Linked DNA regions of Homo sapiens: region 2 is linked to region 1. The links come from fine-mapping of genetic effects on gene expression. Tissue or cell type: whole blood. Region 1 holds a variant in brackets; the other region holds the start of a gene. All regions are shown on one strand. Distances are between the middles of the regions.

Region 1 (5,318 bases):
GTCTTGGCCGGGGCCCCTGTGAGGTCAGAGGGGGATCAGCTGTGCTCCGAGTCATGGCAACGACCTTGCAGGATGTCCGGCTGCTGGCTGCAGGCAAAGTGCCACAGCGGGCGGGGGAGGTGGAACGGGACTTGGACAAGGCGGATAGCATGATCCGGCTGCTCTTCAACGACGTGCAGACCCTCAAGGATGGACGGCACCCGCAGGGCGAGCAGATGTACCGCAGGTGGGCCCCGCCCTGCCCTCCCTGAAGCCCAGGTACACACGGCCCCAGGCCCGCCAACACCTACCTGAGTCCTCTGCTGCCCCAGGGTGTACCGTCTGCACGAGCGCCTGGTAGCCATCCGCACCGAGTACAACCTACGGCTGAAGGCAGGCGTGGCGGCCCCTGCAACCCAGGTGGCCCAGGTGACTCTGCAGAGTGTGCAGAGGCGCCCCGAGCTGGAGGACTCCACTCTGCGCTACCTGCAGGACCTGCTGGCCTGGGTGGAGGAGAACCAGCACCGTGTGGATGGCGCTGAGTGGGGTGTGGACCTGCCCAGCGTGGAGGCGCAGCTGGGCAGCCACCGAGGCCTGCACCAGTCCATCGAAGAATTCCGGGCCAAGATCGAGCGGGCACGGAGTGACGAGGTGGGTGGCGCTGAGCGATGGGCAGTGCGGGGGTGGGCCGGGCCCAGCCACTGCAGACCTCACCGTCTCATCTGTTGCAGGGCCAGCTCTCCCCCGCCACCCGGGGTGCCTACCGTGACTGCCTGGGTCGGCTGGACCTGCAGTACGCCAAGCTGCTGGTGAGTGGGGGCAGGGCCAGCCGGGGGAGGTGGGTAGCCCGCGGCCTGCTGACACGCACCCTCCTGCCCACAGAACTCCTCCAAGGCCCGCCTCAGGTCCCTGGAGAGCTTGCACAGCTTTGTGGCAGCCGCCACTAAGGAGCTAATGTGGCTGAATGAGAAGGAGGAGGAGGAGGTGGGCTTCGACTGGAGCGACCGCAACACCAACATGACCGCCAAGAAGGAGAGCTACTCGGTGAGCGGTGGCCCAGCTGCCCTGAACCCCACAGCCCCCTCCCCAGCTGTGCCCTGGCCGTCCCCTATGGTCAGAGACCAGTGGGGGCCCTGGGTCGAGTTTGCTGGGAGCGTGGCAGAGCCGGGTGTGGCCGGCCGTCCCTGAGACCCTTTGCTCTGGTGCCAGGCGCTGATGCGGGAGCTGGAGCTGAAGGAGAAGAAGATCAAGGAGCTCCAAAATGCTGGGGACCGGCTGCTGCGGGAGGACCACCCGGCCCGGCCCACGGTGGAGGTGGGGCTCCCTGGGTAGGGGCGGGGCTGCGGGGGGGGCCGTGCCGGGTCCCCAGGCGGGGCGGGGCGGGGCCTGACCGGGACCTGCTGTCCCGCAGTCCTTCCAGGCGGCCCTGCAGACGCAGTGGAGCTGGATGCTACAGCTGTGCTGCTGTATCGAGGCACACCTGAAGGAGAACGCTGCCTACTTTCAGGTGAGAACCGGAGCCCCCTCCGCACTGTGGCTCAGCGGCAGCCTTGCAGGAGCCCCTGGACCCCCTCGGCAGCTCCAATCAGGAGCCCTCCTGTCTGCAGACGTTGCCAGCTGCTGCCTGCAGCCTGACCGGGGCCTTGGACAGGGGTGCTCCCCAGGCCTCCTGGGGGCTTTGCCACTCCTTCCTCAGTGCCCCCGTCTTGGGCCTGCCCTGGGACAACTGTGGGCTGGGGCTCTGGTCCCAGGTAGCCTGGCGTGACCCCCTCCCGCTGCCCCAGTTCTTCTCAGATGTGCGGGAGGCCGAGGGGCAGTTGCAGAAGCTGCAGGAGGCACTGCGTAGGAAATACAGTTGTGATCGCTCCGCCACCGTCACCCGGCTGGAGGACCTGCTGCAGGATGCCCAGGTGAGGGAGGGGGTGTGCAGGGGCGTGTCAGGAGGGGCTGGCCTGGAGTCTGGGCTGCACGGGTACTCTGGAGACTAGGGGGCAACTGGAGGGGCCAGCAGGAGTTGGGAGGCACCATGGGAGGTGTAGAGGTCAGCCGAAGCGGGAATGAGGCAGGATGTTCTGGGCTGCATGGGTACTCTGGAGACTAGGGGGCAACTGGAGGGGCCAGCAGGAGTTGGGAGGCACCATGGGAGGTGTAGAGGTCAGCCAAGGGGGGAATGAGGCAGGATGTGGGGAGCCGAGAGGCAGCCGGTCCAAGCCGGGCCGCCCCCATCTCCATAGCCACAGAGTGAGTGGAAGCCTGAAGTCAGCAGCTGCCGCCAGCCCTTGTGCTGTAGAAGGGGCACCGCCAGCCCTTGTGCTATAGAAGGAGCACTGCCAGCCCTTGTACTATAGAAGGGGCACCAGCTGTTTGGCCTGAGATCTGGAGCGGGCAGAGTGGAACTGGGCTTTGTGCTCTGGGAGCAGGGGTGGGATCACCCAGGAGGGCGGGTGCACAGTGGGGAGTGACAGGGAAGAGGGACTGGAGACTGAAATGGCCTCTGAGGTCGGCAGGGCTGGGCCGGGGGGAGAGCCGGCAGCTCCCAGGTGTGTGCCGTCCTGCGGCCTGGCCCCCGCAGAGGGGTGGGATGGGAGGAGGCAGTACCTTCTGCAGCCCGCAGGGGAGGGGCAAGGGGCGAGGGCATTGTAGGGACCAGAGCGTAGCTGGGAGGAC[A/G]TGGTGGGTGAGCTGGGGTGAGAGGAGGGTGCCCTGTCTGGGTTGGGAAGGAGCGAGGGTGCATGGGTCTGCTTGGGGCCAACCCCCGGGGCCTGTCCCAGCTATACCTCCTGCTTCCAAGTGCTGCCACCCCGGGAGCATCAGGAGGGCCCCACAGGCCTGGTCCCGGGGTCTGGGGGTGCCTGGGGCAGGCCTGTGGGTCTCCATGGCCCTCGTCTGGATGCTGCCCCTCCCCCACAGGACGAGAAGGAACAGCTGAACGAGTACAAGGGCCACCTCTCAGGCCTGGCCAAGCGGGCCAAGGCCGTCGTGCAGCTGAAGCCCCGCCACCCAGCCCACCCCATGCGGGGCCGCCTGCCCCTGCTGGCCGTGTGCGACTATAAGCAGGTGGAGGTGAGCGCAGGCCGGGGGTCCACTGGGGGGCGTGGCCAGGCAGGGCAGGGTGTGGCCATGTCCTCACCGACTCTGCCCGTCCCAGGTGACTGTGCACAAGGGTGACGAGTGCCAGCTGGTGGGCCCTGCACAGCCGTCCCACTGGAAGGTGCTCAGCAGCTCCGGCAGCGAGGCCGCCGTGCCCTCCGTGTGCTTCCTGGTGCCCCCGCCCAACCAGGAGGCCCAGGAGGCCGTCACCAGGTGGGTGGCGGGGGCTCAGCAGGTGGGGGCTGGAAGGCGGGTGGGGCGCTGGTGACGCTGACTGTAGCCCTGACCTGCCAGGCTGGAGGCCCAGCACCAGGCCCTGGTCACGCTGTGGCACCAGTTGCACGTGGACATGAAGAGCCTTCTGGCCTGGCAGAGCCTTCGCCGCGACGTGCAGCTCATCCGCTCCTGGTCCCTGGCCACGGTACGCCTGCCCCCGAGCCGGGGGCTCTCTGGGTGGGAGGAGGGGAGAGGCGTTGTGCAGGGCACGGCCGCCTCGCCCGGCACTCAGCCCCACGTGCTTCCCCCAGTTCCGCACCCTGAAGCCAGAGGAGCAGCGCCAAGCCCTGCACAGCCTGGAGCTGCACTACCAGGCCTTCCTGCGGGACAGCCAGGACGCGGGCGGCTTCGGACCCGAGGACCGGCTGATGGCTGAGCGCGAGTACGGCTCCTGCAGCCACCACTACCAGCAGCTGCTGCAGAGCCTGGAACAGGGTAGGGCACGGCAGGGCTGGGGCGGTTGGGCTGGTGCGAGGTGGGCGGTGGAGTGACCCACATGTGTTCCCCAGGTGCACAGGAAGAGTCTCGCTGCCAGCGCTGCATCTCCGAGCTCAAAGACATCCGGCTGCAGCTGGAGGCCTGTGAGACGCGCACCGTGCACCGCCTGCGGCTGCCGCTGGACAAAGAGCCGGCACGGGAGTGTGCCCAGCGCATCGCCGAGCAGCAGGCAGGGGCCGTCCCCCCCCATCCAGTCCCATCCCTCTCCCCATCCCTCCTCCCACCCTCCCTCCTTTGGCCTTCAAGGGGCGCTGTGTGCTGCGCTCGGTGATGAGTGCGTTCCCACTCCCTGTCTTTGCAGAAGGCACAGGCAGAGGTGGAGGGGCTGGGCAAGGGGGTCGCCCGGCTCTCTGCCGAGGCCGAGAAGGTCTTGGCCCTACCAGAGCCATCGCCTGCGGCCCCCACGCTGCGCTCGGAGCTGGAGCTGACGCTGGGCAAGCTGGAGCAGGTCCGCAGCCTGTCTGCCATCTACCTGGAGAAGTGAGTGCACCTGGCCACAGGCGAGGGGCTGGGGTCGGCTGGGGGGTGCTGGGGTGAGGGCTGTGACCTTGCAGGAGGGTGCAGGAGGGAACGAGTTGGGGGCTGTTCAGAGATCTGGCCAGGAGGCGGGAGGCCCAGCTGGGGTGGTGGCCGCAGAGGTGGTGAGAAGAGTTCAGGGCTGGATACGCTTCGACAGTGGCGGCCGGGGGACTTCCTGGTGATGAGATTCGGGTGTGGGGAAGAGACAGTGGAGCTGGGCAGCGGCTGCTGAGTGAGGTGGGGAAGCTGTGGATCCACTTTCAGTGGCACAGTAAGGAATCCTGCACCCTGCCTCTCGTCTGTCCTGTTCCTGGCCTGGACTTAAGGGCCTCTGGCATTTATTTCCAATGTGTTATGTCATAGTCTCTTCCTGTGTTGCAAACCACAGGTCCACCCGCTGTCTACTCCTCACAGAACCAGCACAGTGATAGGGCCGCCGCCTCTTCCTGTGTTGCAAACCACAGGTCCACCCGCTGTCTACTCCTCACAGAACCAGCACAGTGATAGGGCCGCCACCTCTTCCTGTGTTGCAAACCACAGGTCCACCCGCTGTCTACTCCTCACAGAACCAGCACAGTGATAGGGCCGCCGCCTCTTCCTGTGTTGCAAACCACAGGTCCACCCGCTGTCTACTCCTCACAGAACCAGCACAGTGATAGGGCCGCCGCTGGCTACCACAGGGTGCCATTTCCACCCCGGTGTCCCCTTCGCCCAGTCTTGGGCTGCAAGGGCTGAGAACTACGCTTCCAGGCCCTGTGGGCACCAGGATGCCGCTGTCATCCAGCCAGTGGGCTCGTCCTGTCTCGGGGCCTTGGGGTCTGCCGTTCCTGGCTGGCGCACCCCCTCTCCAGGCTGGGTCCTGAGTGTCCTTGTGTTACAGAGGCTCCCAACCTCCTTCTCCCCAAGGCTGTTCTTCTCCTGAAGCAAGCCTCTGACCACAGGGTCAGCTGACCCCCAGG
Region 2 (5,139 bases), 52 kb after region 1:
GCTATTTCCCTCAGCGGCTATGAGGTGAGACCCAGCTCCAGGCTTCTCCTCGGCATCTTCTTCCTGTTATCTTCACATCATCTTCCCTTTCTGTGGGTCTTCGTCTGTGTCCGATGCCCCTTTTTGAAAGCACACCAGGCACATGGGATGAGGCCCGCCTACTCCAGCATGACCTCATCCCAACTAACCGCATCTGCAACGACCCTGCTTCCAAAGAAGGTCACATTCCCAGAGGATTTGGAGTCTGGACTTCGACGTAGGAATTTGGGGGATGGAGTTCAAGCCACAGTTGGGAGGAATCCTCTGGCCCTTCCTCTCCTGGCCCTGACCGAGCAGCATGGGGGCCTTTGGCAGGCAGAGGCTGTGCTCCTCGTGCCGGCCGGCTTCCGAGGCCTGGGCAGGAGAAGCTGGGCCAGCCCGTGTCATCACCCTGGCTGACTGGGGATGGGGGATCAGTGAGACGCACAGCGAGGAGGGTGTGGAGAAAGAGAATTTGGGATGTGGGGGGTGGTTCCGTGGGGGACAGAGGCAGCAGGGCTCCAACCCCCACCTCAGCCCTTCCCTGCCCCCGGAGGCAGCTGCATCACTGGGCTCCCCTGATGGCAGGTGTCCCCTGAGAGCCACTGGGAGAGCAGCCCATGTCTTTGCTGTGAGGGCACCCAGCCTGAGAGGAAGGCTCACCCCCAAGGCTGCCCGCCCCCTGTACCTGGGCCTGCGGTTGGAGCTGCCGGCTGCTATGTCCAGGCCCTTGGTGGAGAGGTCAGCCTGCTGCTCAGCTCTGTCCCACCCGCTCCCGCCGGGCCCTCCATCCTGCCTGCATCTGCCCTGTCTCCTCTCTGGGCCATGTGCCGTGGAGGGGACACCCTGCTCCCAGATGCTTTATGGAGCAATGGCGGGCACTCCCCTTCGAGCTGGGCCATGCCAGGCTCCAAGGGACCAATGGGGATCCTGGCCAAAGGCTCCAACCAGCACGGTGACTCCATGGAGCAGCCCAGGGGCAGCGTGGGCACTGGTCTTGGGGCTCTGGGACCTCCCTCCTTGGACCAGGTCTTCTGAGAGCCTCCCTGACCTGCAGGGGGAAGCTAGGTGCCAGTGCCAGGAGGAGGTGGGTAGAGCCGTGGGCAGTACTGGGCATGGGAGCCCTCTCGCTCACCTCCTGACACCCTCCCTGATGCCCTTCCTTGCTGTGTAGGTGGTATAGGCCCAGGCCTGGGGGCTGGAGGAGTGGCCTGTGGCTCCGGGGACTGCTGGGCTGAAGCACTGGACTGGAGCCCCTGGGGAGGTGGTGGCTCCCAGAAGCCCTGACTGGGAGTGGCCCAGGGACCTGGGGAGTAGGGCAGGCACCCAAGTCTGCCCCCAGAGGTGTCCCCAGAGGTCACTGGGCTGGGGGCCACCACAGGGCAGGGGATCTGGAGTCACAGGAAGACAAAGCCGAGGGAGAGGAGCCAGGGGACAGATGCCAGTGGGTGCAGCAGAGCAGGGCCAGCTCCATGCCACCTGCCTATACCAGGGGGGTGACGGGCAGAAATGGGTGCAGCGGAGCAGGGCCAGCTCCGTGCCACCTGCCTATACTGGAGGGGTGACGGGCAGAAATGGGTGCAGCGGAGCAGGGCCAGCTCTGTGCCACCTGCCTATACCGGAGGGGTGAGGAGCAGACAGGCATGTGGCCCGTCCCTGGGCACACAAGAAGGCTTGGTCTGGCCAGCCTAACACCCCCTTCTTGCAGCGAGGGGCTGGCATACACCCAGGTTTTGTGGCCTGGCAGGGGCGCTGCCTGCAATGGCTCACCGCAGGAAGAAGTGGCTCTGGGGTGTGCTCCAGGCCACAGGCCATAGCCAGCACCACCATGCCTCCCAGCAAGACCACACAGACAGTGTCCAGGCATCCGGTGAGCAGGGCTGGGGATGGATGCGGTTGGCCTGGCAGTGCCTTGGGGAAATGCGGGTTCCACCAGAGCTCCTCTGGGGTCAGGGCCCCGCAGTCGGCAGCAGCCATGCTGTGCGGCCAGTGTGGCAGGTGTGGACAGGGTCCAGGCAGCCTGGGTGAGCAGGTGTGAGTGTGGACCTGGTGGGTGGGTGAGAGCAGAGCCAGGGCAGTGGTCCCAAGCACCCTAACCCCTGAAGGCCTAACCTGTCCCTCCTGCACCTGCGTGGGCGCCTGCAATTACCCTCATGGTGTGCATTGGAGGTGGCTGGCTGGCTCTGGATGATTTTCTGGTCAAGAATGACTCAGGCAGAGGTGGGGGCTGGAGCTTGGGAGAAGGGGGCACTTGTGGGGGTGGGGAGCACCTGAGCCCTCAGGACCTCCAGGACTACGGGACAGAGGAGGAGGGGCCTTGGGGACAGAGGAGGAGGGGCTTTGGGCCCTGTACTTCCGTGGCCCTGCCCACCTGGGATATCGGGGCAGCCAAGGGGAGGGCCCTCCAGAAGATCCATGGAAGGTTCCCGTGCCAGGCTGAGGCTGCCCCCAGGCCAGCCCCCGAGGCTGTGAGCCTCCATGCCCAGTGTCTCTGGCATGCCCCAGCCTTGGAAGGTGGGTGCCAGGATGGGCTTCAGAGAGGGGACCAGGTACTCCCAGGGTGACAGGGAACATTCTCTGTGCCCAGGTGGAGGAGCCAGACCGGGGGGTGAGGCCTGGCACTGCTCCAGGCAGGACATCCCAGCTCTTACAACGTCATGGGGGCAGGGGGGCCTGCCAAGGAGAGCCTTGAAGACCCCTGGACCCAGCAGACACACGACGTGAAGCAGCGTCCCCAGGAAGCTGAGCAGACAAGGTGGGGTCGGGGCTGGAGGCAGGGACACCAGCCCGCACCGCATTAGTGGCTTGTGGGGATAGAAACCGCCGCTCTGGCCGGTCCGCGTTTCACTCCAAACTCCTTTCCCAAAAAAAAAAAGCTGTTCTGAAGGGCACAGGACGCCTCCGCGCCCGCCCTGCGTTCCTTCGCGGTGACTCCCTGCTGGGGACGAGGGGAGGGTCCCGGCTGCCCAGCCGCCGCCCCTTGCCCGGGGTGCAAGCGCCAGGCCCGGGCCGCGCGGGGTTTCCGGCACCTGCCCGCCCCGCCCCGCCCCGCGTCGGGGCCCCGACCTGGGCGCCGCCCTAGACGGGGGCGGGGCCTGTGGGGCTTGAAATGCGGGCGGAGCGGGCGCGCGGAGACACTGCGGACCGAGCGGCGAGCGGGCAGGTGCGGCGGGTGCGGCGGGTGCGGCGGGTGCGGCGGGTGCGGGCAGGTGCGGCGGGTGCGGGCAGGTGCGGCGGGTGCGGGTGCGGGCTCGGGGCCGGGCGGGGCGGCGGCCGCCGAAGGAAACCGGATCCCCGCTGGAGCCGCACGCCGAGGCCAGGGTAGGGGCGCGGCGGCCAGCGGGGTCTTGGGCTCTGGCCGGGCAGGTTTCCCGCCCTGGGCAATTTGAGCTCCGAGTCCGAAGTGGCGCCCCTGAGTCCCGGGCGCCGGTGAAGAGGAGGCGCCGGCCCCGAGCCCTCACGGGAGAGGCGGCCAGGGGCGGGGGTCTCGCAGGCCCAGCGGTTTTCCCTGCAGCGAGGACCGCCCGGGGCACGCTCTGCAGGGTGGGGAACGCCCAGGCCAGGAGGCAGCTAGGCCGACAAATTGAGAGGGGTGACTCCTGGCAACATTGCCGGGAGGGAGGCGTCACGGATCCGGGGAAGCTGCCTGCTGTTGGGTGAGCGGTCCCAGGGGTGGCCACTCCGGGTCAGGTAAGCGGTCACACGGTCGCCTGGAGACCCGTGGGAGGCAGAGGCAGGAAGGGCCCTGTTCATCACTTGGGCCCAGGGCTCTGCTTCCCTGCCCTGGGCCCCCGCTGCACTGTGCCAAGCTTGTTATTGGGGCCACTGATCTCTGATCATGGTGCAGGTTGCAGGTGGGTGGGGTCTTCCCACAAGGGCACACAGCCGGGCAGAAGCTAAGGCTGCTGCCTCCTGTGTGGGCCCAGGCAGCTGCCAGGGTCTGTCCTGACCTGACTCAGGCAGGCGGCTGCAGCCTCCCCAACCTTTGTCCCAGGCTGCGGTGGGGGCCTGCCGGGCAGTCTGGTGACAGACAGTGACCTCACCCAAGAGATGCAGACCCACCCTCCTCAGGAACGGCCCTCCACCACTTGGGGCCTGGGGGCCACCTGAAGTGGGGAATCCACAGGAGGGGCCCTTTGTGCCTCAGGCTCCGGGGAAATCTGCTCGGCCTCCTCCCCACCCCATCACCCTAACCCTGACCCCGTGCTCTCCTAGGCAGCAGCCACCTCCTCCAGATGCCCCCACACTCGAAGCTGCACCCCCTGCCCCCCCTCGCTCCGGACCCTCTGTCCAGCTGCCCTCCCAGGCCCCACATGGAGTCAAGACACCCACTCCCGGGCCTTCCTCCTGCCAAGCCTGGGAAGGGGCAGGGCCCAGGGAAGGGGCAGGGCCCAGAGGGGTTCATACCAGGCCCAAGGTCAGGAAGAGATAGGGAGTGGTGCAGCCAGCCACAGGCCGCATCTCACGCATGGTGCGGGGCATGCACTGGCAGGCACACTCACACACGCAGGGCAAGCCTGCCCCCGACTCCCTGCTCCCAAGCGCCCTGTCTCCAGCCTTCCTCCCTGGATCTCCTCTTTGTTTGGGGAACTTGAGCCACTTGCCTGAGCTTACGAGGCCCGCTTAGCACGCGGCCTGTCTGGGCTGGCGGCCTGTGCGCAGGTCAGGGGCCCGCCCAAGGTGCTGTCCCCACCCTCACTGGCCCTGCCCCGCCCTCGCTGGCCCTGCCCCACCCTGGCCCGCACTGCCCCTCCCCCTTGCTGGGAAATCAGGTGCTCCTCTCATTTCCTCACCGCCATCCCTGGCCGGATGTCAGGGGACAGGGCAGGGCCCTGACCCCCTAGAAGCCCCTCGTCTGGCCTGGATGCCATAGTGAGTGGCTGCCTTAGGCTCACAGATCCTGGAGGGTCCTGGAACGAGGCGTGCTGGAGAGGGCCCAGCCCTAGGGGAGGCAGGTGCCAGTAGAGGTGGACACAAAAGCGCCCAGGCTGGGTTCCCAGAAGCAGAGTCTGTCTGAGGCAGGGGTAACCGGGAGTGGTCTCAGGATGGCCTCAGGAAGGGAAGGGAGGAGGAAGCAGGTGGACGAAGGAGAAGCTGGCCTGTCCTGCCGTCTCATGTACC

The links. PIP is the estimated chance that this variant, and not a neighbour inherited with it, causes the effect.
Region 2: it holds the start of EPPK1, and the variant in region 1 is fine-mapped to the expression of EPPK1 in whole blood (TOPMed, PIP above 0.99).

Annotation. Positions count from the first base shown.
Region 1 is chr8:143,928,105-143,933,422 of GRCh38, reverse strand. PLEC (plectin) reads left to right here. Exons shown (of 32, transcript NM_201384.3): 13 at 72-226; 14 at 312-630; 15 at 711-788; 16 at 862-1,023; 17 at 1,189-1,293; 18 at 1,391-1,486; 19 at 1,764-1,889; 20 at 2,887-3,039; 21 at 3,125-3,279; 22 at 3,361-3,487; 23 at 3,594-3,777; 24 at 3,852-4,009; 25 at 4,142-4,320. Among named protein-coding and RNA genes, the nearest start is that of PLEC, 8.8 kb to the left of the region's middle. RefSeq lists enhancers at 274-1,209, 4,434-4,683, 5,074-5,203 and a silencer at 4,818-4,947. The variant A/G (reference allele first, on the strand shown) is at 2,647.
Region 2 is chr8:143,876,480-143,881,618 of GRCh38, reverse strand. It overlaps EPPK1 (epiplakin 1), which reads left to right and starts at 3,152. Exons shown (of 2, transcript NM_031308.4): 1 at 3,152-3,181. RefSeq lists an enhancer at 1,800-2,442 and a silencer at 3,009-3,098.